Homo sapiens: one gene and its partners. The protein of the gene in region 7 interacts with the protein of the main gene of each other region in a pairwise test. Each region holds a gene or a part of one and is shown on either strand. Other genes may lie near its edges. The genes, in order: GCSAML, SPRED1, MAD1L1, RPRD1A, ZNF212, BANP and FAM90A1.

Region 1 (4,379 bases), on a different chromosome or scaffold from region 7:
AGATAAGACATTGGGATCTTTACATACATTCAGGAAAGCTGACTTTTTCATATTACTCTTGGTGTTTTGCCATCAATTATCATCATCTTTATGATAATCAGGCAAACACTAAATGACGAAGTTAGAGAAATCAGGTGATTTGCGTGGTTAACACAATAGTTAGCAGCTTATGTTTGTGACTTGGTTAATCAAACTTTCTACTCCACCAGTTGTCCACACATAGCATTTCCTTGATGGTTTTCTTTTCCTCTATTGTCACTTCTGCAGCACTGGTCTATCCTTCTGCTTCTAGGTAGCTTTGCATATAAGAGCCTCACTTCTGCTTACCAGCAGTATTCGGGGAAAGCATTTCGAACCAACGCTGAGAAAGTGCCTTCCCTGAATAGAGGTCATATGTATATGTTCAAGAAACATTGCTAGATATCAACACACAAAGCCACTAAGCAAAGAATATATTTGTTAAATATAAAGGAATATCAATTTACAGAGGTGGGGGCTTTTTATAGAATCAGTTGCTGATGTAGAGATTTTGTATAATAGTCACGATCACAGTCAAATCTGGATGTAATGTTTATTTAATAGTGTAGATTGTAAATCAGGTAAAAAGTAATTTAACTGTCTCCTTTTTTCCCCTTTTCCTGGAGTCTAGTTTTCTCACGATTCCATCTTCCTAAACTGGTCAATAAAGAAAGAATTTGGTAAAATAATTGTCCTTGGGGTTATTAGTGATTCATTGACTTACACATCTAAAGGATGTTTGTATTTTAAAGTTGAAAACAAGACAGGAAAAGTATTTAACATCAGTAGGGACCTAATTGGAATTCCACACCATTAATATTACTGAATATAACTGGATACTAAATTCTACTGTGAATAAAGTAAAAAGTGTTTTTCTTAATCCAGAGGAATTCAGATAATATCAGGCCATAGGTGATGTACAAAAATTTGTTGACCAAATTAATAAATCAACTAATACTCTATTGTTTTCAAAAATAGGTATTTTATTAAGCTTTAGATGTATCTTGGCCAAAGAATTAAGATTATGAATAATTTTTTATACCTTCTGTGTTTTTTCTTCTTATTTTTAAACTTTCTAAATGTTGGATGTTGACTTATGACTTCATAACTCTACAAAGAAAGTCTTAGTAAACATCCCCCAAAATCAACAATTTGCACATGATTTCTCCAACTATCAAGCAGTAAAATTAAAACCCAATAAGCTATAACCAAAAGTGTACCTGTCTAGGCACAAGTAATATTCTAAATAATCCTTATGTTAAAGAGGGAATCATAAAGGAACTTTCTAAAAACACAGAATAAAATAATAATGCAAGCTACACAAGACTATTTGAAGGATAAAGTGAAGTGTGAAGAAAATAGCTTGCTAAAATACATTCATAAGAAAACATAAATGACTAATAATGACAAAGTAAGCATTTATCTTAAGAAGTTGGGAGAAGAAAAAGGAAACAAGAAAGTTGTGGGTAAAAATAAATATGATAGGGAACCAAATCTTAGAAAAGAATAATATCAGTAAGATAGCAAAAGTCTGGAAAGACCAACTAAAGAAATAAGGAATGGAGACAAAAATATAATGAAAACAGAAAGTTCAAAATAAGTATTACAGACATAAAACAGGCATGATGAAGAATTATGTATAATAAACATTATGGCTTAAAATGAATAATATCTTGGAAAAAATGAAATATAAAAACTGACACATGAATAACATCAATAACAAAAAAATCCAGCTTACACAGCTGCGTACACAATTTACCAAACTTCAAGTGACAAATATACTCTCTCATATATAAGATGTTCCAGAAAGTAGAGAAATGTAAAATGATGCCAACCCATTTAATGAGATTGGTAAACTTTCATTTCAAATTAAATAAATCAAATTTTTAAAAATCACAGGTCCAACTCGATCATGAAAATAGATGCAATAATCCTCAATAAAATATAAGTTAACTAAATCTAAAACTATAGTAAAATTGCACACATCACAATCAAATGGGTTTTATCCCAGAAATTAAAAGATAGGTAATTAGCAAAAATATTTATTAACATAATTAACTACTTTAGAAGCCTAAGAGAAGAATCATGAGGTTATCTCAATAGTTTAAAACTGCATTTGATAATGTTTGGTCCTTATTAACAATAAAAACCCTCAGAAGAGCTGGGTGCAGTGGTGCAGGCCTGTAATCCCAGCTCCTTGGGAGGCTGAGGCAGGAAGATCACTTGAGGCCAGGAGTTCAAAGCTGTAGTGCACTCTGATTGCATCTGTGAATAGCCACTGCACTCCAGACCGGGCAACATAGTGAAATCTCATCTCTACATATTTTTTTAAAAAGTAGAATCTCCTTATTTTGATAGAGGCAATATGCCAAAAACATAAATGCCAAATATAAATGTCAAAAATATACAGCAACCTTGATGAAAACAATTTAGAAAAAAATTATTATGATCAGTTACAAGAAAATGATGCCTAAGAATTCTGACATAACTATGCTATAAAACATGATAAAGGTACCTATAAGACTTGTAAGGAACAAAAAAAGAATAGAAAAATCTTTAACTTTATAGATGATATATTAACTATGTAAACCCAGTAGGATTAAAAAACCATGAAAAAAAATGAGAAATTCAACAAGGCTAGTGGATACAAAGTCATCTTGCAAAATTCAATAGCATTCCAACAATAACAGGCTAGGAAAAAATGTCATTCATAGATTTATTACTGTTGCATATGGTATCTAGAAATCTATCTAACAAAGAATAAAATAAAAACAAAAAATTAAAGCTCTATCAGAATGCATTAAAGAAGATTTGAATAAAGATAATTATAAATAATTGTTTTGATTGGTGTATTAATAGTATATCTGCATAGACCAGGCGCAGTGGCTCACGCCTGTAATCCCAGCACTTTAGGAGGCCGAGGCAGGTAGATCACAAGGTCAGGAGTTCAAGACCAGCCTGGCCAATATGGTGAAACCCCGTCTCCACTAAAAATACAAAACTTAGACGGGCATGGTGGTGCGTGCCTGTAGTCCCAGCTACTCGGTAGGCTGAGGCAGAAGAATCGCTTGAACCTGGAAGGTGGAGGTTGCAGTGAGCCGAGATCATGCCACTGCCCTCCAGCCTGGGTGACAGAGCAAGACTCCATCTCAAAATATATATACATATAGTACATCTGCATAAACATAGAAGAATTTGCAAATAGATCTCTATATTCACAATGTTGTCTGAATCCAAATTCAAGCTGGCACTTTTTATATAATACACAAATTCAGAATTTGTGTACAAATTTATATGGGAGGATAAAGTCTTCAAAGAACTAAATCAATTTTGAAATAAAGACTAAAGAGGGTATGTGATGGACACTGCCCATGGGCGATGTCTACATTTACTTCACCCTCTTGCTAGTCAGGGGCTAGAAAGCAGCAGCTACCTTCCCCAGACTCATCTGCAGCCAATTATCAGGCTGCAAATTAGGCACTGCCCAAGGTAACAGGCCTCTGACAAGCAGGGTCAGAGCAACAGGAGGCTCTCTGCATCCGTGTTCTAGAGGCCATTCTCCAGCCTTCTCTCACACCACATCTGTGATCCCAATGACTGACACACACCAAGGTGACTCCTTGGGAATGCATTTACTTTCACTGAATTTCCTCTTCATTTTGGTTGTTCCTGATGAATTTCAGCTCTTTACCATCTCTTTGTTGGGGCTCAGAAAATGATACTCCAAAATAAAAGCCTCAGAAGCAGCTCTCTTTCTCCTGCCCTCCTCTCTGTGACAACTCTTTCCTACCCAGGGCTAGCCATAGAAATTAGAATCCCTCTTCCCCAAGGTGATTGATAGAAACCAGAACCTCTTTTCCCCAAAGCCAGCCATAAAATTAGTAAGATGACTCTAACTTTCCCTGTATCTTTCTGTGTAAGAACCAGCCATAAAGACATTATCTGACCTACTTTGTCTGACTGTAGGTCATAAGCCCCCATTCCAGAGAGTGTTCTGCCCCATACTCATAAGTAAGGAATGCTGTACAGAGAGGTCGAGAAGAATCTAAACAGACAGAACAAGACTTGCTGGGATTTTCCACTCTGTCTATTAGCATTAGGTCATATCCTTTTTGTCCAATCATATTTCCACATGGCTATCCAAAATTTGTTGAACCTAAGCATAGAAATGGACAGTTTCCTTTGCATCTTTGGGTCTTCATTCTGAGGTTCCTGTGTCACATAAAACGATGATCAATAAATTTGCCTTTTGTCCTATTAATCTGCCTTTTCTCAGCTGATTTCAGAGAACCTTCAGGGAGCAAAGGGGAAGTTTTCCTTTTGCCCCTGCATCTTCTTTGGTATATTTTAAGAGCTTATTG
Region 2 (4,379 bases), on a different chromosome or scaffold from region 7:
TCACTAAAACTCGCCTCAAAGACCTTCCAGCTTTTATTTACTGTCTGAGTCCTGAGTCCAAAGTCATTCCCATGTTTTAGTATTTGTTACAGCAGCACTCCATTTTCAGGTCTTCAGAATCTGCATTAGTCAAAAATCATTCCCAAATTTAGTGGCTTAAAATAACAAACATTTATTATTTCACAATTCCTGTTGACCAGGAATTCAAGAGCAGCTTAACTAGATGGTTTTGGCTCAGGGTTCCTCATAAGGTTGCAATGAAAACATGCCACAACTGGTCATCTATTAAGGCTTGCTTGGAGCTGAATAACCTGCTTCCAAGGTGGTTCACTAATATGGCTATTGTCTGAACGCTTCAGTTCCTCACCACATGAATATCTACACAGTGTTGCTTGAATGTCCTTTTAATATGGCAGTTAGGCATCCTCCATAATGTGGGTGACCTCACGCAATTAGTTGAAAGGCATAAGAAAAAAGATTGAGGTCCTCTGAAGAAAATAGAATTCGGCCTTCTCATGACTGCAACATCAACTTGTGCCAATTTTCAGCGTGCCTGCCCATTCTGCCAACCCAGCCCACAATCTTATGAACCACTTCCTTAAAAAAGAAAAAAAAAACCCCAGAAACTTTACTTTCTATATAAAGATTGATATCTCTTATCTGAAATGCTTGGAACCAGAACTGTTTCAAATTTCAGAATATTTGTATGTGCATAATAAGACATCTTAAGGATAGTACCCAATTTAAAGATGAAATTTATGTTTATACACCTTATAACACACAGGCTGAAGGTAATTTTATACATGATTTTAAATAATTTCGTGCATGAAACAAAATTCTGACTGCATTTTTAGTGTGATTCATCACATGAGGTCAAGTGTAAATTTTTTCTACTTGAGGTGTCATGTCCATACTCAAAAAGTTTCGGATTTTGGGGCCAGGCACGGTGGCTCAGGCCTATGATCCCAGCACTGTGGGGAGGTGGGTGGGTTGCTTCAGCCCAGGAGTTCGAGACCAGCTTGAGCAACATAGCAAGACCTTGTCTCAAAAAGAAAAAAAGTTTCAGATTTTGGAACATTTCAGATTTTAAATTTTCAGATGAGGGATGCTCAACCTGTATTGGTTCTTTTCTTCTGGAGAAATCTGACAAATAGAGTGTCTTAGAAATATTCTTAGTAATTGATAAGTTTATTGAATAAGGCTAGTGATTTCTTCCACATCCTTTATGTTTACAAATTCCTTCCAAGCCATTACTTACTTGTAAGTCATCTGCCCCTTCAGCTTCATTTTTTGATTCGGGGCATCCTAAGAAAATAGATAAAAGTTAATTAAGTATAGAATTTTTGTCTTAGAGTCCAGTATTAATGACTAATTGATTATGTCATTATAATACTTTAGAAGACTAATCAGAGATCTTTCTGGACTGCCTGGCAATTAAGGTACTGGCCACTTGCATTTGCCCCTGTTAGAATAATGGAGAATAATGTAATTATTTCCCTCCTCTATAGGTAAATTTCCAGCTGCTTACTAACGAGATGTTTTCTCTGAAAGTATACTATCTCTAGCTACCCCTGCCCCTAGTTTCTCCCAAATACTCAAAATTACTAGGCAGATTATAATTACATTGCTCTGGTGATGCTAAGATGTGATTTATTCAATTTTTCTAAATGCTTTGACCCAGGAAACAGTATTTAGTACCCATAACCAGGATTTTAGTTGCTTTAGCTAAGATGGAAAACAAATGAGTTTTAATCCACTATTGACAGTTAATGGCCAATTGTTGTTACTGACTTTTTTGCATCAACGTCTCTGTACAGATTTTCATGCTGTTAAGAGTACCTTTAGTTTCAATAAATTAATAAGAAAGGATTTGTCCTAGCAAAGTACTCTTAGTTCATGCTACCCTTGAGAGGCACAGCTTAGCACGGAGTAGGCATGAGATAAGAAGAAATGCGCCCTTTGGAAAGAGCAGCATATTTTATCTTTTTGTCACAGAAGGTCGAGTAAAAGCAATTTGAGATTGTTGAAAGTCTATATAGCAGCTGATAATAATGCTAGCTAATGTTTTTTAATGTTCAAAAATAACAAGGCAGACTAAGTACTGTAGTCTACTCTACCTAGAAGTTTGTAAGCTACTCCTTATAAATCATTTTTTAAAACATTAAACCCAATCTGTTTGATCCTAGTGAAAGAGGTATACTGTTATGGTACATGAGCATAAACTTAAAAGTAATTCAAAACTTTAAATCATATAAATTCCAGCAGCCATGGATACTATTTTTCTCTCTCTTTAAAGCACTGGTTCTTCAAACCTGGCTAAAGGTTAGAATCAACTGAGGAATTGTCAAAAAATACACTGATGCCAGAGTATGGCGTCAAACCAAAATATATCAGAATCTCTGTGGAATGAGGCACAGAACATCATGTATTTTTTTTTTTAAGTTTCTTATTTTTTTTTCTTCAAATTCAAATTACAATTCCTTGACTAGAGAACAATTCTTCACCATATTTGAACTTTCTTGGAGTTTTTGAAAAATAAGGGATGACTCGACTCTATTCCCCAGATAGATTCAATTGGTCTGGAGTGCAGACTAGTCATTTTAAGCTTCAAAAGCTTCCCAGGTGATTTTAATGTGTAGCCAAGGTTAAGAACACTGATCTAAGGAGAATTTATGGGGTCTTACAATAAAGACAAAATGGCTACTATTACTTCATAGTAATTTTTTCTGGATCAGAATAAAAAATTACTCATTTACCAAATTCTAATCTTTTAAAGTAGCTAAATAAATTACTTAACTACAGTTTTATGCACTATCAAAACAGATTTGTACAATGTATTTCCATGTTCTTGCCTGTGACTGGTCTCACAGTTTATGTTTTCAGATTTTCTTATTAAAATGACATCTTCAAAATAACACAAATCACAACGTAGTCTAGCACACTTTCAGTTACTTTATATAGAAAGTTAGTTAAATTGAAATAATTTTCCTCCTAATTAGAAAAAAAAATCAAGTCTTAGTTCTTCCTTTATGGGAAGAAATGGGTTTTAATGTGATTTTTGTTTAAGTAAGCATAAGCCAGTCTTACATGAAAAAACATTATTCTTCCCTTCAAAACCTGTATGCTTTTGAGTTAATAATTTTAATAGACTGGCAAGATAACAAAGGAATAGATGAGCTTGTGGTCTCTGCCAATCCTCAATAATGAAATCAATCAAGTAAAGACTTTTGTCATGGAATAACTAGAGTCTACATACATTTGAATATTACAAGTTCTATATAATTACCCAAAAAAAGGATGTGACTGGTGTCATACATACACAAGTAGAATACCAACTGGGATTCTCGCAGCTGTACATTTCTATTCCCTCTTCCTTCAAGCTCTTATTTTAAAACATTTGAATTATCTGAAGTCAGCTGTTGATGGACTCTTCAAGATAATACATGCAATTGACATAGACTATGATGTGACAAATACAAATCACGTTAAGGAATCTATTATTTTATCTTCATCTATTGTGAGGTTTCAAAGCCTGGTCACATATCACAAAAGCTGACATGGTTAAAGTGTGAAAACTACTTTGGGTCAACTTTAAGAAAGATAACCTCTACTATATATAACCGATAAATAAATTAAGAAAATAGTCAAGAATACCTACCTTGAGAAATATCCTCTATAGCTCTTCGGATACCTCTATCAAAAGCCCTAGCATCAGCAGGACTTTGAAACGTAAGACCAAACTTCTTGTCATCAATCTTCCAGTGGTGAAATGTTGGAGTGACCTTATTATAAATGAGGTCTTTTTTAAGCATACATTCCAAAACCACCTGACAAAAGCCAAATACCAAAAATTAATATACATATATCAAATGCATCTAATGTAGCTCATAAATACAAACTGAGGTGATACAACGCTATTACTTTTTAATGAATAATTTTTAGTATTTTAAATAAAGTGGTCTACTTCACAAAGTCACTCAATAAAGAGATTAAGATGGAATAAAAAAATGCACATTATAAACAGGATGCTTATTATACTCCCATTTTAAGAATACACACATATATACACTCCCATTGCATACAAAATTTCTGGAGGAATATATCAGGAATTACTTCCAGGAAACAGGCAGGGGGTTGGTAATAATAGAAATTTAACTTTTTAAAGTCATTTTTGGCTGGGGGCAGTGGCTCACACCTGTAATCCCAGCACTTTGGGAGGCCGAGGCGGGCGGATCACTTGAAATCAGGAGTTTGAGACCAGCGTGGCCAACATGGTGAAACCCCATCTCTACTAAAAATATAAAAAATTAGCTGGGTGTGGAGGTACATGCCTGTAATCCCAGCTACTCAGGAGGCTGAGGCAGGAGAATCGTCTGAGC
Region 3 (4,379 bases), on a different chromosome or scaffold from region 7:
AAATCTGGCTCTGCAGGAGCCCTCTCTAAGAAGGAGGGGGAGGAAGTTGCTGCCCCCATTCTGCTCCAGGAACATCAGGACACTTTCTGGGCTCACGGTCCTGGCTCCAGAGGCCTCAGCATCTGCCCCTCTTGAGTGTCTGTGAATTAGGACAGCATCTGGGAGTGTATCCACATCCCACCCAGCCACCAGGAGAGAGGTGGGACGCATGCCCCCACACGTGACCCGACCCCCGACCCCACACCCTGGCCCCGCCCACTTGTGTTGCAGGTCCAGCTGCTCCTGCAGCTCCTGCTTCTCCGACTCCAGGCGCTTCACCCGCATCTCCTGGTCCATCACGCTCCACTGCAGTTCCGAGATCCTCCCCTTCAGTGCGTTGATGGTCTAAAAGTAGAGGGGACCAGAGAGCCGCTCAGTGAGTGGAGCCCGTGCGTGGAAGGAGCCTGCACATGGAGATGAGAAGAGTGGAGAGGCGACACCACCCACGTGCTATAATCAGGGCAGGAGGCAGAGGGGCAGAGGAATAAGGGGGCAGAGGGGCATCGGGCAGAGGGGTAGGGGGGCAGAGCGGTAGGGGGGCAGATGGCAAGGGGGCAAGGGGGGCAGAGGGCAGGGGGAAGAGGAGCAGGGGAGCAGAGGGCCAGGGGGCAGAGCCACCTCCTTCTGGAGGATGCAGGTCAGGCAGACGCTCACACGCAGGGCCCACCCTCCTCCTGGTGCTCCAGAGCAGCACAGCCCAGAGCCTGCCACAAGCCACCCAGGAGCTGACAGAGGAGACCGGGCCCCAGCCAGGGGCCCTGGAAAGGAGGCTTGGTGAGGCGGCTTCAGAAGCAAAAGCCTCCACCAGCCAAGATGGGCCCGGACTCTCAGGCCTGGCACCTGGCAGTCTCTGTGCCAGTGCCCCACGCTCCCAAAGTCCCATCAGACATCCACATACCCGCCACACCATCACTTCGGTCTTCCCTCCAACCGTGGCTCCTGTCATCCCTCCCTAGCCACCCCAATGCTACCATGACGGCTGTTTGCTAGCGACATCGCCCTCACACCACAGCAAGGCACTGGCCAACCAACAGGACAAAGACGGAGGCTGTGCAAGGGGCAGGGCGGTACCTGCTGGGGAGGCCGTGCGCTTGGAACGGGAGCACGCGGCACGGGCAGGAGCGCCCCTGGGGAGGCGGCCCCTGAGCAAAGCCAGCAGCCCCTCTGGCAGCCTCCAGGACAGCAGGTCTGCCTGACATCATGGAACCCGCACGCGACAGAACCGCCAGGCTTCCTCCTGACCACTCCCACCAGGCGACCTTCTGAGGACCCTAACCCTCTGGAAAAGCTCAGAAAACCCCAGGTGTCCTCAGAGAAAGAAAGAGCACGTGGGTCGAGCCAATGTGAAAAGCCGGACAGACCCTGAGAAGCATCACTGTAAGTTAACACACGGAAACACACGGGCGTGATGTCAGCCCTGGGGACCACGCACCCAGGACAGGACAATGGCAAACTCACACAGCAAACGACCTGGGTGGGCCTGGCTGGGCGGCACCCTCCGCAAACAAGGAGGCCTCAGCACTCATTTCCCTGTCCCTGAGAACGTGCCCAGCTTAGGGCCTGCTGAAGCCTATCACCGCTGTCCACCCCACGCCGCTCTGGGAAGGCCCGCATGGGGGCTGCGTGCTCCCCACATGCCCACAATATGTACGGTTTACTTCACCACAACAGTGAAGCATCAACCTGGGAGTCAACAAAGAAGAAAGGTATTAAAAACATACTAACAATAAACACATCCTCCCAGAGGTCTTCCGAACTCAATTAATACGCACCGTGTGCCAGGGGCAAGGCCAGATGCAGGGCCGAGCCCACCTGCCCACAGGGTCACCCGTGTTGTAGGGGACGCCGGACAGTTGGCAAGGAAGAGGCGCATAAGATAATTCCAGAGTAAGGAGCGTGACAATCAGGACCCTGTGACAGGAGAAGGCAGTCAAGGCCTAGTGCGCAGGGAGGGCTTCCCTGAGGAGCGGCCACCTCGGCTTAGACATGACAGGCCAAAGCAGCAGCACCTGCAGCGCCACCATCTTCCCCTCACTATGCCCCACCCCACCGGGCACCGCCCTGCGGCTCCTGCAGTCTCCTGCTCCTCTGCCCCTCATGAAGTGCTCGGCACGACTCACCCTCCCCCATGGAACCACAGGTGCCCGCAGGCAGCGGGGACAGCCCCCGGCCCAACTCCAGTACAGCCCAGCACATGGGAACTGGAACCCAGAGCATGGGCAAGGCAAGAGCAGCTTCTCGGGAGCCAATCACGCCTCCTCTCCTGCCAACGTTCCCTCCAGAAGCAGATAGGGGAACAGCCTGAACACGCCTCCCCAGCACGGCCACAGGAAGGACCCGCGGCCAGTTTCTGGACCCCTCCAGGACCCCCGCTGCACGCCCACCCCACCCCTACCACGCCTCCACCCCCACACCAGCAGATTTTCATGTTTCCTCTTGGCACCAGCGATCTTGATCGCCACAGACAAAGGACAGGAGAGGTCAGAAGATTCCAATTTCCACCAGTGCCCATGTCTGGGCTGTTTCTAAAATGCAAGCAACCTTCACCAGGACTGCAGTTCACACAGGCTCCAGTTCAGAGGCAATTATCCGACGCCATCAGATGCCTGTAGACCTTGCAGACAGTCAAAGATATGCAAATCCAGACGTGCCTCCTTAAGCCTCCTGACAAAACAACAGCTATTTCCAGAAAAGACCACCATCCACGACAGGGAAGGCTACGGGGAAATTGGAGCCCTCAGCCAGGCCTCTGAGCACAACGGCTGCAGAGACCGCCATCGCTAGGGACCTTATAACCCAGTCCTAGGGGTCTGTCCAAAGTCAACAGAAGCGAGGGCTGAGGGAAGGGCTACCTGTCGCATACATACATGAGCGAACACAAACACACTAAACGTCCACAAACAACAAAAAACAGATTCATCATCCATTTAAATTCATAATTACAAAGGCAAAAAAGTGCTTAACTTTTTTTTTTTTTTTTGAGACAGAGTCTTGCTGTGTTGCCCAGGCTGGAGTGCAATGGTGTGATCTGAGCTCACTGCAACCTCCACCTCCTGGGTTCAAGCGATTCTCCTGCCTCAGCCTCCCGAGTCCCACAGGCTGGGACTACAGGTGCGCACCACCACGCATGGCTAATTTTTGTATTTTTAGTAGAGATGGGGTTTCACCATGTTGGTCAGGCTGGTCTCCAACTCCCAACCTCAGATGATACACCCACCTCGGCCTCCCAAAGTGCTGGGATTACAGGCGTGAGCCACCGCGCCCGGCCCAAAGTCTCAACTTTTTAACTGAAAACTACAGAATGGAAAATTAATACTTCTACTGATGACAACTATGTACAAAACGCAGCTGCCCGTGTGGGAAGCACAAGTGAAAACACAAGCGGGCACTGCAGTGGCAAACAAGAGCATGCACTCCCTCTCCTCGGGAAAACAGCTCCCTGCGCAGCAGAGGCCCCGCTCACCTCGCCAGCCTGGGCCAGACTGTCCTCTTTCTCACGCAGCCTCTTGCTGGCAGCATCCAAGTTCTGCTGACACTGCCTGTTGCGCTCCAGCTGCTCCTGCATCTTCTCCTCCGCCCCGGCCTCCCGCTCCTGAAGCTGCCGGATGCGCGTCAGGAGCTCCTGGTTGCGGTCGACCTCACGCTGTTAAGAGAGCAAGAGTCAGATGCCACGTGCCGCCCACGGGAGGGTCAGCGGGGAGCCCTCACCCCCACACCTCTCTCAGAACATGCCGAGGCACAAAAAAGAGCCGAGCAGGACCCATGAGCCAAGTCATAGGCAGAACCAGGACGGGACCTGGGACCCAGCCCCAGCGTTGGCACCCCCGCTGTGGCACCATGACGGTGAGCACTGTGCGAGGTCAGGGCTCCCAGGAAGGGCACTTGGCACAGATCACACACACATTTATCACACCGTCTGCTCAGCAGTTGCCTCTGCAGGGAGAGGGGGCATGGGAAATCTAAAATTCAGCATTGACCTTGGGGAGAAGCTGAGCTTTCATAGCACCAGCAAATCCTGTCTAATTACGCTCTGTCCGGCACTGAAAGGAGCTGGCACTCCCCCAGCGAGCAGACAACAGGGGCAGAGACAGGCAGCGTGGACAGGAGGCTGTGGGCAGAAGCAGTTTACACTGGGCTCAAATCTGCCACACATGCACCCCCTCTCACACAAACCACAAACCTCCAGACCCACCCCCCACGACTGGCCTTAGGGAGGCCGCGTGGCTCTCACTGGTTGGGATGGGACATGACCAAGCACCACGCTCAGACCTCCTGACTCTAATGACCCGCAGGCCCTCCAGAGTTCACTGCCAGGTACCGGCGTCCCAGGAGGTGAAGGC
Region 4 (4,379 bases), on a different chromosome or scaffold from region 7:
TACTCCTAAGATATGCAACTGTGGTTACCCTTTCATCAGGGAGAGCGGAAGGAGACCAGATCCTTTATCTAGAACTTAGGTAAAACACTGTTCATAGAATCATGAGGCTCTTAGCCAAAAATGATTTTCTGTCATGAGTTATTACCAAATAGGAAGAGACATAAATCTTAGTGTTTGGTTGTTCCAAATGTAACATTCTTATCACTTTTCTATTCAAGCTCTTGTCCATAGTGGCCAATGGGCTTCAGCATTCCTATCACTGAACAAACAGGTAGGCTGACTCAGGTCGTGGCCTTGGTCTGATTCCTTCTGCTTCTCCAGTACTGAGACTAATATAAATCCACAGTTACAGGTAGTAATTGATTGTATTTTTCTTTCACCTTCATGGGGGAAAGAGCTCCTCCCAGCCTCTGATTTTATTCAGTGAATTTGGAACCAGTCCTCTAACTCCCACGGAGCACTGTGAGTTCCTGTTGCCCTTGTGAGTTCCTGTGACCTTAAAGGATACTAATTTCTGGCAACCCCATGTCTGCTTCGGGACCAGGGCTCAGCAGGAGCCAGGTTTTGTCTCACCTATGAAGTTAGGTGTACAATTTCTAACCCATGAAAATACATTCGCCTTGTTTTAAGAGTATGGTTATGTCTTCATTTTCTCATTTTACACTTTATCTGTCCCGCCTACATGTTTGAAACATAGAAGGAGGAAGCTTAAAGACTCAATGCCCACTTAAAAAAAAAAAAAAAAAAAAGTCTTTCTGGAATTAATCTGATGGTTAAGGAATACCATACCATACCAACATGTAGGAGGACACAGAGTGTTAAGATAATAATTCTAACTTATTTTTCCACAGAATTACATAGTTCTATATAGTTACAAAGAAATGTATGAACACATATATATCACTCTAACACTACTTTTTTTTTTTTTGAGACGGAGTCTCGCTCTGTCACCCAGGATGGAGTGCAGTGGTGCTATCTCGGTTCACTGCAAGCTCCGCCTCCCAGGTTCACGCCATTCTCCTGCCTCAGCCTCCCGAGTAGCTGGGACTACAGGCGCCCGCCACCACGCCCAGCTAATTTTTTGTATTTTTTAGTAGAGACGGGGTTTCACCATATTAGCCAGGATGGTCTCGATCTCCTGACCTCATGATCCGACCACCTTGGCCTCCCAAAGTGCTGGGATTACAGGCGTGAGCCACTGCGCCCGGCCACTCTAACACTACTTTTTACATTTAAAAACAAAAATACTTAAAGGGGCAGTGATTATGTCCAAGAATGAAAATTTTAGTGTATTTAAATCATACATGAGCCGGGCACAGTGGCTCATGCCTATAATCCCAGCACTTTGGGAGGCCAAGGTGGGAGGATCACTTGAGGCCAGGAGTTCAAGACCAGCCTGGCCAACATGGTGAAACCCCATCTCTATTAAACACAAAAATTAGCTGGGCTTGGTGGCCCGTGCCTGTAGTCTCAGCTATTTGGAAGGCTAAGGCAGGAGAATCGCTTGAACCCAGGAGGCAGAGGTTGCAGTGAGCCAAGATAGTGCCACTGAACTCCAGCCCTGGGGACAGAGTGAAACTCCGTCTCAAAAAAAAAAAATCACATAACAAAATAGGCATGTTTTGTTTTATTTTAAAAAGTTTAAATAGCTAACATCTCACATCTAACCATATTTGGCAATTAAAAATCCTCTTTCTATACAAAACATGATTTCTATGCAAAATATACAATATACAACATACTACATTTAACATAAGCAATTTGTTAATGAGGAAGAGATATTCATGTGGCTTCTTTCTTGTACCTAAAAGTATAATAGAAATCAATTTACAGAAGTGAAACGAAATTAATAAAGCTTGGTGGCAACATGAAGTAAAAGTTTGTAACTCTTTTAACAGGGTAAAATTTCTACCTGTGGTGGTTCACTTGGAGATCCCAGAGAGGAACAGTTTTCATTTTCATCCACCTTTATCTGTTCATAAGTTCGCTTCCTAGGCTTCTTATCACCATCTGAAATGAAAGAACATTTAAGTATTAATGAAAGAATACATTTTAATGAAGAGATCAAGGTAAGAGATCAGGATTCTACACTTACACAGAGCTTGTTTAAGTTGTTCTAATACATCATTTTCATAAACAGACCTTTCTTCCCAAATAGATAACACTCTTCCAAGGTGCTTCTTACAACTTTCATCAGTTTCACTAAAAAAAAAAAAAAAGAAAAAAAGAAAAATGTTAACAGTAACAATGCATAGTGTTATTGAAAAGGTTAACGGTAACTTTAAATATAATCAGACATTCATTCCCTGGAAAAAACTGTCCAAATGTCTACTTAGCATCACTATGTGGCCAGCAGCTCAAAAGTGAAGTGATCTAGACACACTGCTTGCTTCTAGTAAACATTTTATAAACATATTATTACACAACCAAAAAAAGTTTAAACTGTAAAAGTTTTAGTACTGGCTGCTAGGGATTTCCTATCCTAATGGGGCCTGGACATGGGGCTAAGGAAGATTTCTCATAGGTTATTTTTTTAAATTTATTCAACAAATACTTATTGATCCAGTTACTATCTTTGACATGGAGATGCAAATGCAGCTTATGGCAGTTGTTATTTATAAGTATCACAAAAGAGAACAAAGTGCTTAAGACAGACCTGGCCCTGTTTAAGAGATATCCGGAAGAGTATTTAAGGAAATGATATTTAATTTGAGATCTTAAGACTAGACATATGGGGAAATGAAAAACAGACTACTCCCAACTGTTTCCTACCTCCTTCATTGCTATCACTGTAGACAGAAACACTACTATCTCTTGCTTAGAATTTTGTAAAGTCTTCTCACGCTCTCCCAGCCTCTACTCTTTTACTCTATTCTGTACAAAGCATCCTAATAATGTAAATCAGATTATACAGCTCTTGATCCTCCAAGAGCTACCAATCACATCAAGAATAAAACCAAAATCCTTACTCTGGGCCATAAGGCCCACATGCTCTGCTTTCTGGCAGTCCCTCAGTACACACTCCCTAATACCTAGTACCATACAAATCTCCTTGCTAAGGTCCTCAAACATGTCCAGCATATAAGCTATCTCATTTTTTCGGCCACATATTCTCTCTACCTAGAATCCTTTCTGCCTAGTCAAATGGCTCATTTCACCCCTTCCTTTAGTCTTTGTTCAAATGCCACCTTCCCCAAATAGTTGTTCTTTATCTCATCACATAACTGAGCGCCCTCATACTATCTAGTTCCTTCCCTGCTTTGTATTTCTTGCTAGCATTTGTCATCTGACATTATGCATTCACTTGTCTATCTACTTATTAACTTTGTCATCCAATGAAATGTAGGCTCCAGTAGAACAAAACTGTCTTGGTCACTACTACTCAGGGTTTTGCATATAATAAATATTTATGCAGCCAATAAATATTTTACTGAATTCTAGGGAGGGGCAACATATATAGAAGACTTAAGGCGGAAAGAACTAAAAAAGGTTAATTTAGCTTAAACTGTAGACTATAGACTGTGTGGAATAAATGCGAGACAGAGGTCTGGGGAGATAGGCAGTGCCACGAAGGAACACCTTAAGTCTTGCTCAGGACTTTAGACTTCATCTCTAAAACAAATGGGAACCACTCAAAGGCAAGGAAGTATTATGACCAGCTCTGCAACTCTGTCGAGTTTTCTAAAGAAATTAAACAATACTAAAGGGCATTAAAATTATACTGAAAATACATTATGGTAACTAAAAGGGAAAGAAATCCAAAGAACCGAGTCAATGTGTACTATGTGAGATATGGGGACTGAAGGAGAAAGAAGAGTTTAAAGGTAACATAATTTCTTGCATAGGCACCTGGATAGATCGAGTTGCCATTCACAGAGTATAAAACCTACAGGAGGGACAAGTACGGTGGGAAGCAAGGACATAATGAGTTCTGTATCAGACACAGTGAGTCTGAAATGTTTGAGACGCATACAAGTAAAAATGTCAAAAGGCAATTGGGCACACAGGTTTGGAACAAAAAAAAATCTGGACTGGAGCATAAAACTGTAAGTCATTACGGTGTGGAGAATAACCAAATACATGCGATGTACAAAATTACCCAGAGGGCAAGTAAAGAATGGAAACAGGCCAGACATGGTGGCTCACGTTTGTAATCCCAGCACTTTGGGAGGCCGAGGCAGGTGGATCACGAGGTCAGGAGTTCAAGACCAGCCTGGCCAAGATGGTGAAACCTTGTCTCTACTAAAAACACAAAAATTAGCCAGGCATGGTGGCAGGCACCTGTAATTCCAGCTACTTGCGAGGCTGAAGTAGGAGAATCGCTTGAACCCAAGCGGCAGAGGTTGCAGTGAGCCAAGATCGCACCACTGTACTCCAGC
Region 5 (4,379 bases), on a different chromosome or scaffold from region 7:
AGATCAAGACCATCCTGGCTAACATGGTGAAACCCCATCTCTACTAAAAATACAAAAACAAAATTAGCCAGGTGTGGTGGCAGGTGCCTGTAGTCCCAGCTACTTGGGAGGTTGAGGCGAGAGAATGGTGTGAACCCAGCAGGCGGAGCCTGCAGTGAGCTGAGATCACGTCACTGCACTCCAGCCTGGGCAACAGAATAAGACTCCGTCTCAAAAAAAAAAAAAAAGACTGATTATAAAGGGATATGAGGGAACTTTCTTGGATGATGGAAATATTCTCTATCTTGGTAATATGCTGGCTACACATTTGTCAAAATTTGTTGAACTATCTGCCTAAAGAGTAAATTTTACTGTATGTAAATGGTATCTCAATAAACACGTCTTAGAATGTCAAAGTAGGAGAAAATGCTAGCTGTAATAAAAGATAACATAAACAAAGTCTAAAAACAAGGAGAGAATATTTGTAAACAGAATATGAAGTGGAAAAAGGTCAAGAACCCCAAAATAAAACTGCAGATTGTAAATCATTCATGGAAGCGGAAATGCAGGCAGTCAATAAACAAATGAAAACACAACCACCTTACAATCAGGAATCCAAATATAACTAAGTGAAAGCACGTTCACCCATCAGACTGACAAACATGAAACAGACACAAAGAATAACATTCAGAGCTGACTATAATGTGGTAAACTGACTCTCATAACACTCCTGGAAGGAATGAAAAATACTACACACTCTTAGGGGAAGAAAAATTTCAAGTCATTAAAAACCCTTTTACCTAGCAATCCCACTTGGGGAATCTATGGCTGGGCACAGTGGCTCGAGTCTGTAATCCCAGCACTTCGGGAGGCTTGAGGCGGGAGGACAGCTTGAGCCCAGGAGTTCAAGAACAGCCAGGGCAAGATGGTGAAATCCCATCTCTACAAAAAGACAATAAAATTAGCCAGGCATGATGACAGGTGCCTATAGTTCCAGCCACTCAGGAAGCTGAGGTGGGAAGATCACTTGAGCCCAGGGGATTGAGGCTGCAGGAAGCCATGATCACACCACTTCCCTCCAGTGACAGAGAGAGATTCTGTCTCAAATAAATAAAGACACGGTCTCACTCTGTCACCCAGGCTGGAGGGCAGTGGCACGATTATACGTCCTGGTATTACAGGCATGAGTCACCCCACCCAACAGAAAAGTGACACATTTAGGATGAATTTCAATTCATAAACATAGTATGCAAATCCTTTTTTTTTTTTTTTTTCTGAGATGGAGTCTCTCGCTCTGTCGCCCAGGCTGCAGGCTGGAGTGCAGTGGCATGATCTCAGCTTACTGCAACCTCTGTCTCAGGTTCAAGTGATTCTCCTGCCTCAGCCTCCCAAGTAGCTGGGATTACAGGTGTGTGCCACCACTCCTGGTTAATTTTTCTGTATTTTTAGTAGGGACAGGGTTTCACCATGTTGCCCAGGCGGGTCTCAAACTCCTGACCTCAAATGATCCACCTGCCTCAGCCTCCCAAAGTGCTAGGATTATAGGCATGAGCCACCATGCCCAGCCTTTTGAGACTCCATTTTTAATATCTTTCAATGTTTTAACATTTTCCCTAGGTATCTATTCCAACCATCAACTCCTGTATGACAAATAATCCCCAAATTTAGTGGCTTAAGACATCATCATCTACTTTGCATGTGAATCTGCAGTTAAAGGAGGGTGGCACATGGATGGTTCGTCTCTGCTCCACTCTCTGTCAAGTGGGGCAAATCACAGGCAGCCAGGTGCTAGAATCCCTTGAGAAATCCCAAGCCACATGAAGAGGGTGCATGAAGTGTTCTGTTCAACGGCCTTACCTACAATCTCAGTCTACACACCAGCATCAACCAATAGACATGGGAATGCACACATTTTCATTCCCAATAGGTTTTTATTTTTGCCTCCTCTCTTTTGTTTTCATTTTGTCTCTACACTTTGATATTATATACTGATAGATATATGGATTAAAAAAATCATTTCTGGCCAGGTGCAGTGGCTCACGCCCATAATTCCAGCCCTTTGGGAGGCCAAGGTGGGCGGATCATGAGGTCAGGAGATCGCGACCATCCTGGCTAACATGGTGAAACCCCATCTCTACTAAAAATACAAAAGAATTAGCCGGGCGTGGTGACGGGCTCCTGCAGTCCCAGCCACTGGGGAGGCTGAGGCAGGAGAATGGCATGAACCCGGGAGGCGGAGCTTGCAGTGAGCCGAGATCGCACCACTGCACTCCAGTCTGGGCAACAGAGAGAGACTCTGTCTCAGAAAAAAAATAAAAATAAAAATAAAAATAATCATTTCTGTACCTGTGCTTCCAATATAATATCCACTAGTCACATGTGGCTGGTTAAATAAAATTAGCCGGGCACAGTGGCTCGTGCCTGTAACCCCAACCCTTTGGGAGGCCAAGACAGCCGGATCACTTGAGGTCAGGAGTTCAAGACCAGCCTGACCAACATGATGAAACCCTGTCTCTACTAAAAATACAAAATTAGCCGGGTGTGGTGGCACATGACTGTAATCCCAGATACTCAGGAGGCTGAGGCAGAAGAATCACTTGAAACTGGGAGGCAGAGGTTGCAAGGTTGCAGTGAGCCAAGATTGCACCACTCTACTCCAGCCTGGGTGACAGAGTGAGAGTCTGTCTCAAAATAAATAAATAAAATTTAAAACTCAGTTCCTCAATCATACTAGCTAACATTTCAAGTGCTCAAAAGCCACATGTGCCTAGTGGCCACTGTATTAAACAGTGCAGAGCAGAACATTTCTATCATCTTGGGAAGTTCTACTGGATGCACTACACCCTTATAAGTCTTTTCTATTTGATAAAATACTAAGGTTGTATTAAAATCTCCTATTATAACAGTGAATCTTTCTCGCAATTCTGTCAGTTTTGTTTTATATATTTTTAGGCTATGTAATTAGGTGCATACAGGTTTAGAAATTTTGTATCTAGCTGGTAAATTGAGTCTTTTACCATTACAAAAGTAGTAGGAGCCTTCTATCTCTAAAGATACTAAATATATTTGTCAACTTTATTTTCATTAGTATTTGCTTGGCATATTTTTTCATGACCTTTTATATTCAACTGTTTCTATATCCTTATCTTTTAGTTGTATCTCTCTCTCTCTCTCTTTTTTTTTTTTTTTTTTTTTTTTTTGAGACGGAGTCTCACTCTGTCACCCAGGCTGGAGTGCAGTGGCGCAATCTTGGCTCACTGCAACCTTTGCCTCCCAGGTTCAAGTGATTTTCCTGCCTCAGCAACCTCCGCCTCCTGGGTTCACGCCAGTCTCCTGCCTCAGCCTCCCAAGAAGCTGGGACTACAGGCACCCACCATCACATCTGGCTAATTTTTTGTATTTCTAGTAGAGACGGAATTTCACTGTGTTAGCCAGGATGGTCTCAATTTCCTGACCTCATGATCCACCCAACTTTGCCTCCCAAAGTGCTGGGATTACAGGCGTGAGCCACCACGCCCAGCCGGTTGTAACTCTTTTAAACCATCTAGTTGGATTTTTCCCCCATCCTGACAATCTATGCCTTTTAACTTGAACATTTCATTCATTTACATTTATTGTAATTGTTCATTAGCTTTGATTTATTTTTACCTTTTTTGTGCTATTTATCCCATCTTTCTTCTCTACTTTCTTGTCTTCTTTTACATTAATTTTTTCTTATTCCATTATCCCCCTTTCTGATCTGTAAGTTATACGACCAATTTCGAGTTGTTTAGCAAGTATCCTAGAAATTATGGGAAACATACATAGAAGGCCCTTTAACAAAGCCCTTTAAACACTTTAGTTCTGATCATCTCTTCCTCATATTTACATCAATGCCATCATGTATTTTAATTGTTTTTAACACAACAAGAAATTGTTACGTTTTATTAAGTCACTATTTGTTTAGATTTAACCATTTCCATGCATCATCACATCTTCTCATATTTTCAGACTTTCTATTTGGGAAAATTTTCATTTTACCTGAGGTATATCTTTTAGAATTTCCTTTTCTAAGAGTGTATTGGTAGCAAACTGTCATTTTTAATTTGTCTAAAAATGTCTTCTTTACATCTTTGTTTCTGAAACATTTTTGCTGCATATAAAACTATGGGACCACAGTTACTTTCTTTCAGCCTATTGACAATATCATTCTACTTTTGCCTAGCTTCCATGGTTGCTGTTGAGAAGCTGGCCCCCATTCATTTTGCTGTACTTCATTTCAAGGTAGTCTTTTTTTTTTTTGGTTGCTTTTAAGAATTCCCTCTGCCTTAGGCCGGGTGCGGTGGCTCATGCAGTGGTAATCCCAGCACTTTGGGAGGCCGAGGCAGGTGGATCACCTGAGGTCAGGAGTTCAGAGACCA
Region 6 (4,379 bases), on a different chromosome or scaffold from region 7:
TCACTTCTTTAAATTAAGCTTTTGGTTCACAGTAGTCCCCCTCATCCATGAGGGTTTCAAGAAGCACCCCCTACCCCCACCACGTGGACGCCAGAAACTGTGGATGGTGCTGAACCCCATATATGCTATGCTTTTTCCCGCCCATATGTGCCACACAGCTTGGACATGCTGGACAAAGGAACGACTCACGTCCCGGGCTGGACAGAGCAGGACGACCAGACTTCATCATGCTACTACTCAGAAGAGTATGTAATCTGAAACTTACAAATTGTTTATTTCTGGAGTTTCTCATCTAATATTTTCAGATCACAGTTGACTATGGGTAATTAAAGCCTGGGAAAGTGGAAGCATGGGTAAGGGGGGGCTGCTGTGTAACACAGAACATTTTCCAGCACTTCACAAAGGAGCAATAGGTCCCAGGAAAGATATTTACATCTTTAAATGTTACTAAACAAGTAAATTTTAAAATGTGCATGACACACAGAAAAGAGGGGAAATAGAAAATCACAATGACACCTCTTTTCAAATGATACGTTCAGCTCTCTGGGGATACTGGGAGGCTACGCAGTGTGTGGCTGAAGCAGGGGAGCTGTTGGCGTGCCTACACTCACAACAGGGCAGGCAACGTTTTTCAAATCAAAGAAACACTCATATGACTATTTAGACAGTTTCAGTAAACACTAATAAATGTGATTCAAAAAAAATCAAAGAATCCACTGTTTATACATATGGGCAGACAAATAATTCCTATAAACCTGTAAATGAAACGAATACTCCTTATCTTATTTGAAATTCTCTCTTAGTCGAAATGGATCTTAAAATAAACTCCTGTAGAATGTTCTATGTAAGCCTTATGACAAAGTTATCTACTCTGGAACGCTTTCAAAGAACTTCTTACTAACAAGATGAGAGGAACTGCCGTTGTGAATGTCAAACAAATTAATAAGCTTATTAAATAAGATTCACTATTCATAACTGTCTCATCTCCTTTGGAAGAGGAAGGGTAACGCCCCCTCTAAAAGCCCCAGAATTTTCCGGAAGCCTTCCCTCTTCCAGACAGCATGCTGAAGCCACACTGAGATGAGAGCCACGCCCCACTCTCAATAGTGGAGGACCATGTTTCCAGGAGAAAGCCCTGGTGACACGGAGGCACACGATGACCTGTCTTCAGAGGGCCCAAGGGGGCTGGTGCCACTAAAAACATAGGCGAGGTCTAGTGGTGCATGTAAAATTTCTAGTCACTCAGCAAAGCTTCCAGAAAAGTCTTCCTTCCTTCTCAGCCACGCCCTACTCTCATGCCACAGAATCCAGGAGGTGTTTGTAGAGGGACTTCACCCGGGAGCAAGCCCCTAGGCGCATCAGGCTGACCACAGCTTGGGTCACAAAACCCCAATAGAGAACTCCGCACGGGCAAGGCAGGACATTGACTTGCTGCTGGGACAGTGCCCGCCCAACCTGGGTGTGCTGAGTAACTCCAAGGGACACGCTGCATGGGAACAATGACCTCAAGCTTTTGCCACTGATCCTAGAAGGAAATTACTCTTTCCCTCAGTAAGAGAGCGCCTGCACTTCTGAACTGAGAAATATTTCCGATGTTTCCCAGGAGCACGAGCTGGGGCAGGGACCACCGCACGGCCTGACCCTTGGAGCTGACTGCCCGCCTGCCTGCTGGCAGGACTGAGGTGAGCTGACTGAATGCCCCACCCCACCATGTGCTTCAATCCCTAGGCTCTGCAGCAGCCGCCCCCACCTGTGAAATGTTAAGAGCTCATGGCCACGATGACCTCTACTTTAAATGGGGACCTTGTGCCTCCTCCCAAGCTATCACTGTGCTCCCAAAACACAGCGGAACCGGTGGAAGCCGCCATGGCCCTGCCGTGGCCCACCCCGCAGCCCCCTTTCCCAAGGTGTGAGGTGGAGAGGGTACGTACTACTTGCACCTGTCCGTCTTCTCCGATCTGGTGGATCTGCACCTGCTGTGCGTTGGCCAGCGCGTAGTGCAGGGCCTGCGGCTGCGGCTGTGGCTGCGGGAGCTCGCTGGCAGGAGGTGGGGTGCTCATCATCGGCTCTGTGGGGGCAACAGGTGTGAACGGGGTGAACGAGAAGTTTCTTAGGCATTGCCTGGTGTGGCATGTGTGCACCCCCGTCCCCCACTGTCGACTCCCACAGCAGAGAAGAGGAAATGCTTCATTTTTCCTCGACTCACTGCATCTCCACTCTTCTGCAGAGATCACTACCAGTGAGTCTTAGGAACTGAGGCTTCCGACATGGAATGCAAAAGGGCCTGAGAGTGGCGTGATGCTGCTATGACAAAACCCCTTCTAGTCCCCAACTTATTTAAATGAATGAAGTTCTTAAAGTGGACATTAAAAGCTGTTTCAGGCTGGCAATATTTGTCCATGGGTAATTAAACTAATAGAGCAAAAGTCTCATCCGCACACTTAAAGATACATTTCCAACAAATTTTACTTGCTGTGTTTAATCAAAATGAGATACATTTGCTTTGATGTACTGTGTATTAATTTTCACTGTAATGATGTCTCAATCATAATTTTCTTAAACTCTCAGAATATTAAGAGCGCAGAAAAACTTTTTAATTTTCAATGTATACACGTAGTTTTGTTGCAGAGAATTATAATGACTAATTTTAAAAAGCTTTTAAGCATAAAAATGTAGTCCGGACACGGTGGCTCACACCTGTAATCCCAGCACTCTGTGAGGCCAAGGCAGGTAGATCACCTGAGGTCACGAGTTCAAGACCAGCCTGGCCAACATGGTGAAACCCCATCTCTACTAAAAATACAAAAATTAGACAGGCGTGGTGGTGGGGGTCTGTAATCCCAGGCACTCAGGAGGCTGAGGCAGGAGAATCACTTGAACCTGGGAGGCGGAGGTTGTAATGAGTCGAAATGGCACCACTACACTCCAGCCTGGGCAACAGAGCGAGACTCCATCTCGGGGGTACAGGGGAGGGAAGCAGTAAGATGAAATTCTGTGAGAGAAGTAGAATGTTGATATGAATGAAAGGAGAAAAATGAAAGACATAAAATTATTGATTATTAAAGAGAAGCGGGCCAGGCGCGGTGGCTCACGCCTGTAATCCCAGCACTTTGGGAGGCCAAGGCGGGCAAGATCACTTCAGGTCAGGAGTTCGAGACCAGCCTGACCAACATGGTGAACCCCGTCTCTACTAAAAATACAAAAATTAGCCAGGTGTGGTGGCACGCGTCTGTAGTCCCAACTACTTGGGAGGCTGAAGTAGGAGAACCACTTGAACCTGGGAGTAGGTGGTTACAGTGAGCTGAGATGGCACCATGGCACTCAGCTCCAGGCAACAGAGCGAGCGGGGGAAGGGACGGGGAGGGGCAAGAGAGGGGAGGGCAAGAGCGGGGGAGGGGAGAGAAAAGCTTTCCATGTATTTTTTACCAATAGCTAATGGTAGGTATTAAATTGCCATAGTACCTAGATTCCACTGAATACATTTTTTAAAGTAACAATAAAATGTTGGGTTTCTTTTTTTTTTTTTTTGAGAGAGAGTCTTGCTCTGTCACCCAGGCTGGAGTGTAGTGGTATGACCTTGGCTCACTGCAACTTCCGCCTCCCAAGTTCAAGCGATTCTCCTGCCTCAGCCTTCCAAGTAGCTGGGATTACAGGCACCCACCATCATGCTGGGCTAATTTTTTTTTGTATTTTTTTGTAGAGAAGGGATTTCACCAGGTTGGCCAGGCTGGTTTTGAACTCCTGACCTCAAATGATCCGCCTGCCTCAGCCTCCCAAAATGCTGGGATTATAGGTGTAAGCCACTGTGCCCAGTCACATTAACAGAATGTTGATACTTGCAATATGCTAGAAATTGCCTAGCTACACTAAATCAGAATCTGAAATTCATGAGATTCAAAGGAGATTCAACAAGCCCACCTGCATGCTGCATGTGGAGAGCTCGGCTCCAGCCAAAGACCCTGACTCCACCTGAGCACCTCCAGTGATGGGTCATGTCCCAAAGCAACCACCGCCAGGCAGTGCTGCGTGCTCCACGGCGGCTTCCTGTCTGCCTGAGCAGTTACGGAGCACTCACCACCACAGGTCCTCGAGCAAGCCTTGTGCACCCCAGGAAGAAAATGACAAAATCCCAGCTGGGCTGAAGCCCACCTCCGCGGAGCTGCTGTTCCTCCACTGACCCTCTTAGCACCTACAAAACCAGCCTAATTCTTTACTTATGCGCTACTTCTCCAGGCATCTAAGCATTATCAAACCTTGTGAAATCTCCATTTCTAACCGTTTCCCCAAAGACAACGGTTTCCAGCCCACTGCCACCATGACAGTCTGTCCCTGGACAGCTTCTCCCAGCAGCTCCAAAACACTCCACTGGGGCCACAGGG
Region 7 (4,932 bases):
CGACGTGCCATCATCTTCGTCTCCTGGGGGTTTTATGACCGCCTTTTTCAGGGGTTGATTGTCGGGTCACCTGAAACACACACAAACACACACAAGTCGATGGTTAAGCACATTGGATATTCACACACCCACAGGAAGCCCCCCGCTAATTCCTTGCCGGTGTGGTCATGAGGAGACCTCACCACCAGTCGGTCAAATCTGTGGAACACAATGTGCTGTGTGCATCCTCAGATATTGTGTGTTCCTCTGCCATGATTACCTAGTCCAAGAGTAAACCTCGCCTGCCACAGGGCCCGTGGCCTAGGTATGGGGAGTTGAGCTTTCAACCCCAAACTAACAACTGATTCTGGAGACTGGACTTAGGTCTATCACGATTCACTCCGGTAGAAGACACGATGACTCTATCTCCCTTGACCGACAGAATGATCGAAGCCACAGGGCATGGCGTGTGTCACCCTTTGGCAGGTCTGTTTGAAATCTGGGATAAGGGATGCCTCCTGTCACAACTTGAATCGCTACTCTTGCCGTTTCATTAGGCAACTTCCAAACACAAATTCATAGAGAGAAGTTATCTTCCTCTCTACCACACTAGCAGGTGATGGTCTTTCCTGTTCTATCTTTTTGGCTTTAGCTCCAGCCCCTCTTTATTTATTTTTCTGGTATTTTACGCATGCCACACGAATTCATCTAAACGAACGGTGAACAAGTGCCATATCGTATCAATGTCTTACACGGCTGAAGGGCAAACCACCCTTTTTTCCAAAGTCCTTTTTCCATTTACCCACCAATTCAGCATGCTGCAGTACATTTCTTTTCGCATTCCCACCTTGGTCTTATCCCACACATGGAGACGGAAATGCTTTCTCGTTTTCTGTTCCAAGAATTACTAGTAACGAGAGCACACCCTACCGCATCAGCAAGCCCCAGTGTGATCGCTTTCTTTCGGCCTCCTTTGTCTCTTTTCCCCCCCACCCCTCAGGGATTGCGTGAAACAAACAACTGTTCAGTGAAACTAACCTGAAATTACACGTCTACTTTCTTTCCCCGGCTGGCGCTGAGATGGGCAGGTGCTGGAGCAGCCCCGCTGGAAGCGATGCAGCATCCAGGAAGACGGAGGAAGGGGCAGAGAGGGACCTCTGCTTTCCAGGCTGCCTTTTATACTGCCTCTGGTCACCTGACGTGGAACGTACCCTAACCTAATCAGTTACATGTAGGTTAATTACAATTAACTTAATCCAATTACATGACTCGGAAAGGTCTATCTGCACAGCCCACTCTAAGATCATGTCCACTGCTGACAGACATTCTAAAACCTACGTGTACAGCTGCAAGCTTTGAAGAATAGATGTTCCCCGTCAGATATGTAACACTGGTGCCTGTACCCCTGTCTTCTTTTCCATCTTTTTTGTTTTTGTGTTTTGTTTTGTTTTAAAAAATGTGGTAAAATAGACACCTTTTAATTGGACCATATTTACTCTATCTCGACGTAGGCCTCCGTGTCATCATGGAGATTCTCCTTGACATGCAGTCACGGCCATGATCCATCTTCAGAGCTTCTCTTTCTTCCCCACGGTAGGTCTGTCAGCAGAGAACCCTGACCACACACTCATGTGTTTTCTCCTCCAGAATGCGCTTGGAAACCACCGTGAATTGGAGCGCACTGGGAAACACAGATGAAGAAAGTCAACACCGCTTTGTCCTTCAGTGCCTGGCTCCCTTTTCAGCTGGTCTTGAGACTCCAGGCATTGGAGTCCAGGGAGGGGCACGCCGCCTTTACCTTGTGCTTCCCACGATCTTGTCTCCTTAATCCCCACTGCAGCTCTCTGCCATAGGGTCTTATACTGCTTTACATGTGGGAAACTGAAGCTCAGAGGGTTTCACAGCAGGGCAGGGAGCCCAGATGTGAATCTGTACATACCAAGCTTTCTAATTTTTCAGTAGTTTCCAAGCATCTTTTTTTTTTTCTTGTTTCTTCATTGATGTCTTTTTTTTTTTTTTTTTTTTTTTTTGAGACACAGTCTCTGTCGCCCAGGCTGGGGTGCAGTGGTGTGATCTCAGCTCACTGCAACCTCCGCGTCTCACAGTCAAGCAATTCTCATGCCTCAGCCTCCCGAGTAGCTGGGACTACAGGTGCCCACTACACCCAGCTTATTTTGGTATTTTTAGTAGAAACAGGGTTTCACCATGTTGGCCAGGCTGGTCTTGAACTCCTGACCTCAGGTGATCCACCTGCCTTGGCCTCCCAATATGCTGGAATTATTGATATGAGCCATTGTGCCCGGTCATGTCATTGTTGCCTTAACCAAGCCTCTTTTAATTTTTCAAACGGAAGAGCCCCTGTCCCTCAGTTACTGCTGCTGAGCCCTTTCAAGATGACTCAGTGAGGAGGGGGAAAAGCAGAAGCGGTGTGGGAAGAGGCGGGGTCTGGGCCAGCTGCTGGTCCTGCTCTCCTCCCTCCTTTGGCCTCTAGGCTCCCAGGAGTGGTTTGGAACCTGCGCCGTGTGCTCTGGGGGCTGTGGCAGGGCAGGGGCGGCTTGGAACCTGCGCCATGTGATCTGGGGGCTGTGTCAGGGCAGCGGGAGTCCTCGTGTCCCCTGCGCACAACACAGACAGAAGGCTGGGTCCACCCAGTGGGCGGTCGGGTGCCAGGCCAGTGCTTACCCCGCCATGTTTTCAAGCCCGAGGCCAGCTGGCTGCAGGTGCAGGGCTATGCGTCAGGGGTCAGGGTGCACACATCCCTGCAGGTCTCGGGGCTCCTGGGTTGCTTCTGGAAGGGCCCGGATGGGGCCTGACTGGAGCTGCCGAGGGGTGGAGCTTCTGGGAAAAGGATCCCTCCTAGGGGGAGTGTCTTGGGCCTGGGGCCACGTGGCACGGAGAGAGACGGGTCCATGGCAGTGTCTGCTTTTCTCTGTGAAGGCAAAGGGCCTCTGAGGGAGTATTACAGCCGCCTCATCCACCAGAAGCATTTCCAGCACATCCAGGTCTGCACCCCCTGGCTGGAGGGCCGAGGACTACCCCCGCTTCTAGGTGAGAGGCCAGCAGGAGGCTCAGGGAGGACGCGGGGCCTTAAGCAGGGGGAACAGGGGTGGGCAGGATGTACTTTTTTCAGAAAAGGTGGCTCTGGAGGCCACTTGGGGACAGGACCTGGGCTCTAGCTGAACTCCCGGGAGGAGGCTACTTCCTGGTGTGCCAGCCCCTCCCTGCCAGGTGGCCCCAGAGGCCCTTTACCAAGGGGTTTGAGGAGGCCACGTCCTTTCAGTCTGCCACGCCCTCCATTCAGTCCTCTTCCTTCCTGCAGGAGGGCTGGGCCTGGGGTTGGGGCCACTGTTGCCCAGGTGTGGGAGGGCAGTGGCTTTGGGAGGTACAGGGACGATGTGTCAAACAGCGTCGCCTCTCCCAGTGCGATGGTTCTCCTTTGCCTCCGTCTCTTTCCGCGTTGATTTCTCCAAGTGGGGAGTCGTGGCTTGGTCCTGATGCGTCTCTAGAGCCGCATCTTCCAGCTTCGAGTGAGCAGAGCAGTTGGAGTCTGAGGGCCTTTTCCTGGCAGGATTCTCCAGCTAGTCTTTGTTTTAGACAGTCTTGCTCCGTTGCCTAGGCTGGAGTGCACGATCTCAGTTCATGCAACCTCCGCCTCCTGGGTTCAAGCGATTCACCCACCTCAGCCTCCCAAGTAGATTACAGGATTACAGGAGCCCGCCACAACACCTGGCTTATTTTTGTATTTTTAGCAGAGACAGGGTTTCACCATGTTGGCCAGGCTGGTCTTGAACTCCTGACCTCAAGTGATCCTCTCGCCTTGGCCTCCCTAAGTGCTGAGATTCCAGGCCTGACCCATCATGCCTAGCCCCAGCTAGTCTTTAGAAATGTTAAGCTATTTGGCTTTATTTTCACACTGACAGCTGGTTTGTGGTGGGTGTGATGTGGTTTATTATTATTATTATTATTATTATTATTATTTTGAGACGGAGTTTCGCTCTTGTTATTATTATTATTATTATTATTATTATTATTATTATTATTATTTTGAGACGGAGTTTCGCTCTTGTAGCCCAGGCTGGAGTGCAATGGCGCGATCTTGGCTCACTGCAACCTCTGCCTTCCCGGGTTCAAGCGATTCTCCTGCCTCAGCCTCCTGAGTAGCTGGGATTACAGGCACCTGCCACGAATTAGCTTCGCTAATTTTGTATTTTTTTTTAGTAGAGATGGGGTTTCACCATGTTGGCCGGGCTGGTCTTGAACTCCTGACCTCAGGTGATCCACCCGCCTTGGCCTCCCAAAATGCTGGGATTACAGGCGGGAGGTGAACCTGGGAGGTGAAGGTTGCAGGGAGCTGAGATTGTGCCACTGCACTCCAGCCTGGGTGACAGAGTGACACTCTGTCTCAAAACAAAACAAAACAACAACAACAAAAAACAAATTGTGGCTATGTAGAAAAAGTGTCAACTTACATTTTCAGATGTCCCACCCAGGCCGTGTGGCTGCTTGGCCACCTTAAGCCACTTGTGCTTGGGGTTGTCGGGGACCTTATCCAATTTTCACTCCCCTCGGGGGAAGTTGTCTCACTGTGCTGGGAGGATTTGTGTTCCCAGGGCAGAGACCAGCGCTCTGACCCACCCCTCTTGCCTAGCAGGGTTAGTGGACCTGGGTGTCTCTCTGGACACATCCTCCAGTGGCCTGGACCTGCCCATGAAGGTGGTGGACATGTTCAGGTGCTGTTTGCCTGCGTGTGCCGTGAACTTCAAGTGGTAGGAGCAGAACCCCAATCTTTCTGGGGATAGCTTCACAGATCCACCACTGAGGGGGAAGCAGTGCAGAGTGAGCTGCCCACAGTGAGGCCCTGCCCCTCGGTCAGTCCAGCACACACTGGAGGCCACGAGGAGGAGCCCTGCGGTTGCTGTGGCTGGGCTGAGCCTCACTGAAGTAGTTGCTTCC

What was found.
Region 1: the proteins of FAM90A1 (region 7) and GCSAML interact in binary tests that used the Homo sapiens proteins (3 or more experiments, as listed by UniProt).
Region 2: the proteins of FAM90A1 (region 7) and SPRED1 interact in binary tests that used the Homo sapiens proteins (3 or more experiments, as listed by UniProt).
Region 3: the proteins of FAM90A1 (region 7) and MAD1L1 interact in binary tests that used the Homo sapiens proteins (3 or more experiments, as listed by UniProt).
Region 4: the proteins of FAM90A1 (region 7) and RPRD1A interact in binary tests that used the Homo sapiens proteins (3 or more experiments, as listed by UniProt).
Region 5: the proteins of FAM90A1 (region 7) and ZNF212 interact in binary tests that used the Homo sapiens proteins (3 or more experiments, as listed by UniProt).
Region 6: the proteins of FAM90A1 (region 7) and BANP interact in binary tests that used the Homo sapiens proteins (3 or more experiments, as listed by UniProt).

The regions. Positions count from the first base shown.
Region 1 is NC_000001.11:247,551,564-247,555,942, reverse strand, and holds part of GCSAML (germinal center-associated signaling and motility-like protein), read right to left. Parts: intron 1-4,379.
Region 2 is NC_000015.10:38,321,689-38,326,067, reverse strand, and holds part of SPRED1 (sprouty-related, EVH1 domain-containing protein 1), read right to left. Parts: intron 3,828-4,379; coding exon 3,659-3,827; intron 1,306-3,658; coding exon 1,259-1,305; intron 1-1,258. UniProt on the Homo sapiens protein: Tyrosine kinase substrate that inhibits growth-factor-mediated activation of MAP kinase. Negatively regulates hematopoiesis of bone marrow.
Region 3 is NC_000007.14:2,219,073-2,223,451, forward strand, and holds part of MAD1L1 (mitotic spindle assembly checkpoint protein MAD1), read right to left. Parts: intron 3,683-4,379; coding exon 3,503-3,682; intron 1,951-3,502; coding exon of another isoform or gene 1,812-1,950; intron 385-1,811; coding exon 260-384; intron 1-259. UniProt on the Homo sapiens protein: Component of the spindle-assembly checkpoint that prevents the onset of anaphase until all chromosomes are properly aligned at the metaphase plate.
Region 4 is NC_000018.10:36,028,896-36,033,274, forward strand, and holds part of RPRD1A (regulation of nuclear pre-mRNA domain-containing protein 1A), read right to left. Parts: intron 2,203-4,379; coding exon 2,096-2,202; intron 2,011-2,095; coding exon 1,913-2,010; intron 1-1,912. UniProt on the Homo sapiens protein: Interacts with phosphorylated C-terminal heptapeptide repeat domain (CTD) of the largest RNA polymerase II subunit POLR2A, and participates in dephosphorylation of the CTD by RPAP2.
Region 5 is NC_000007.14:149,242,234-149,246,612, reverse strand, and holds part of ZNF212 (zinc finger protein 212), read right to left. Parts: intron 1-4,379.
Region 6 is NC_000016.10:88,030,798-88,035,176, reverse strand, and holds part of BANP (protein BANP), read right to left. Parts: intron 2,069-4,379; coding exon 1,932-2,068; intron 1-1,931. UniProt on the Homo sapiens protein: Controls V(D)J recombination during T-cell development by repressing T-cell receptor (TCR) beta enhancer function. Binds to scaffold/matrix attachment region beta (S/MARbeta), an ATC-rich DNA sequence located upstream of the TCR beta enhancer.
Region 7 is NC_000012.12:8,224,819-8,229,750, forward strand, and holds the start of FAM90A1 (protein FAM90A1), read right to left. Parts: upstream 2,801-4,932; 5' UTR 2,662-2,800; intron 1,661-2,661; 5' UTR 1,454-1,660; intron 1,197-1,453; exon of another isoform or gene 1,175-1,196; 5' UTR 1,018-1,174; intron 71-1,017; 5' UTR 15-70; coding exon 1-14.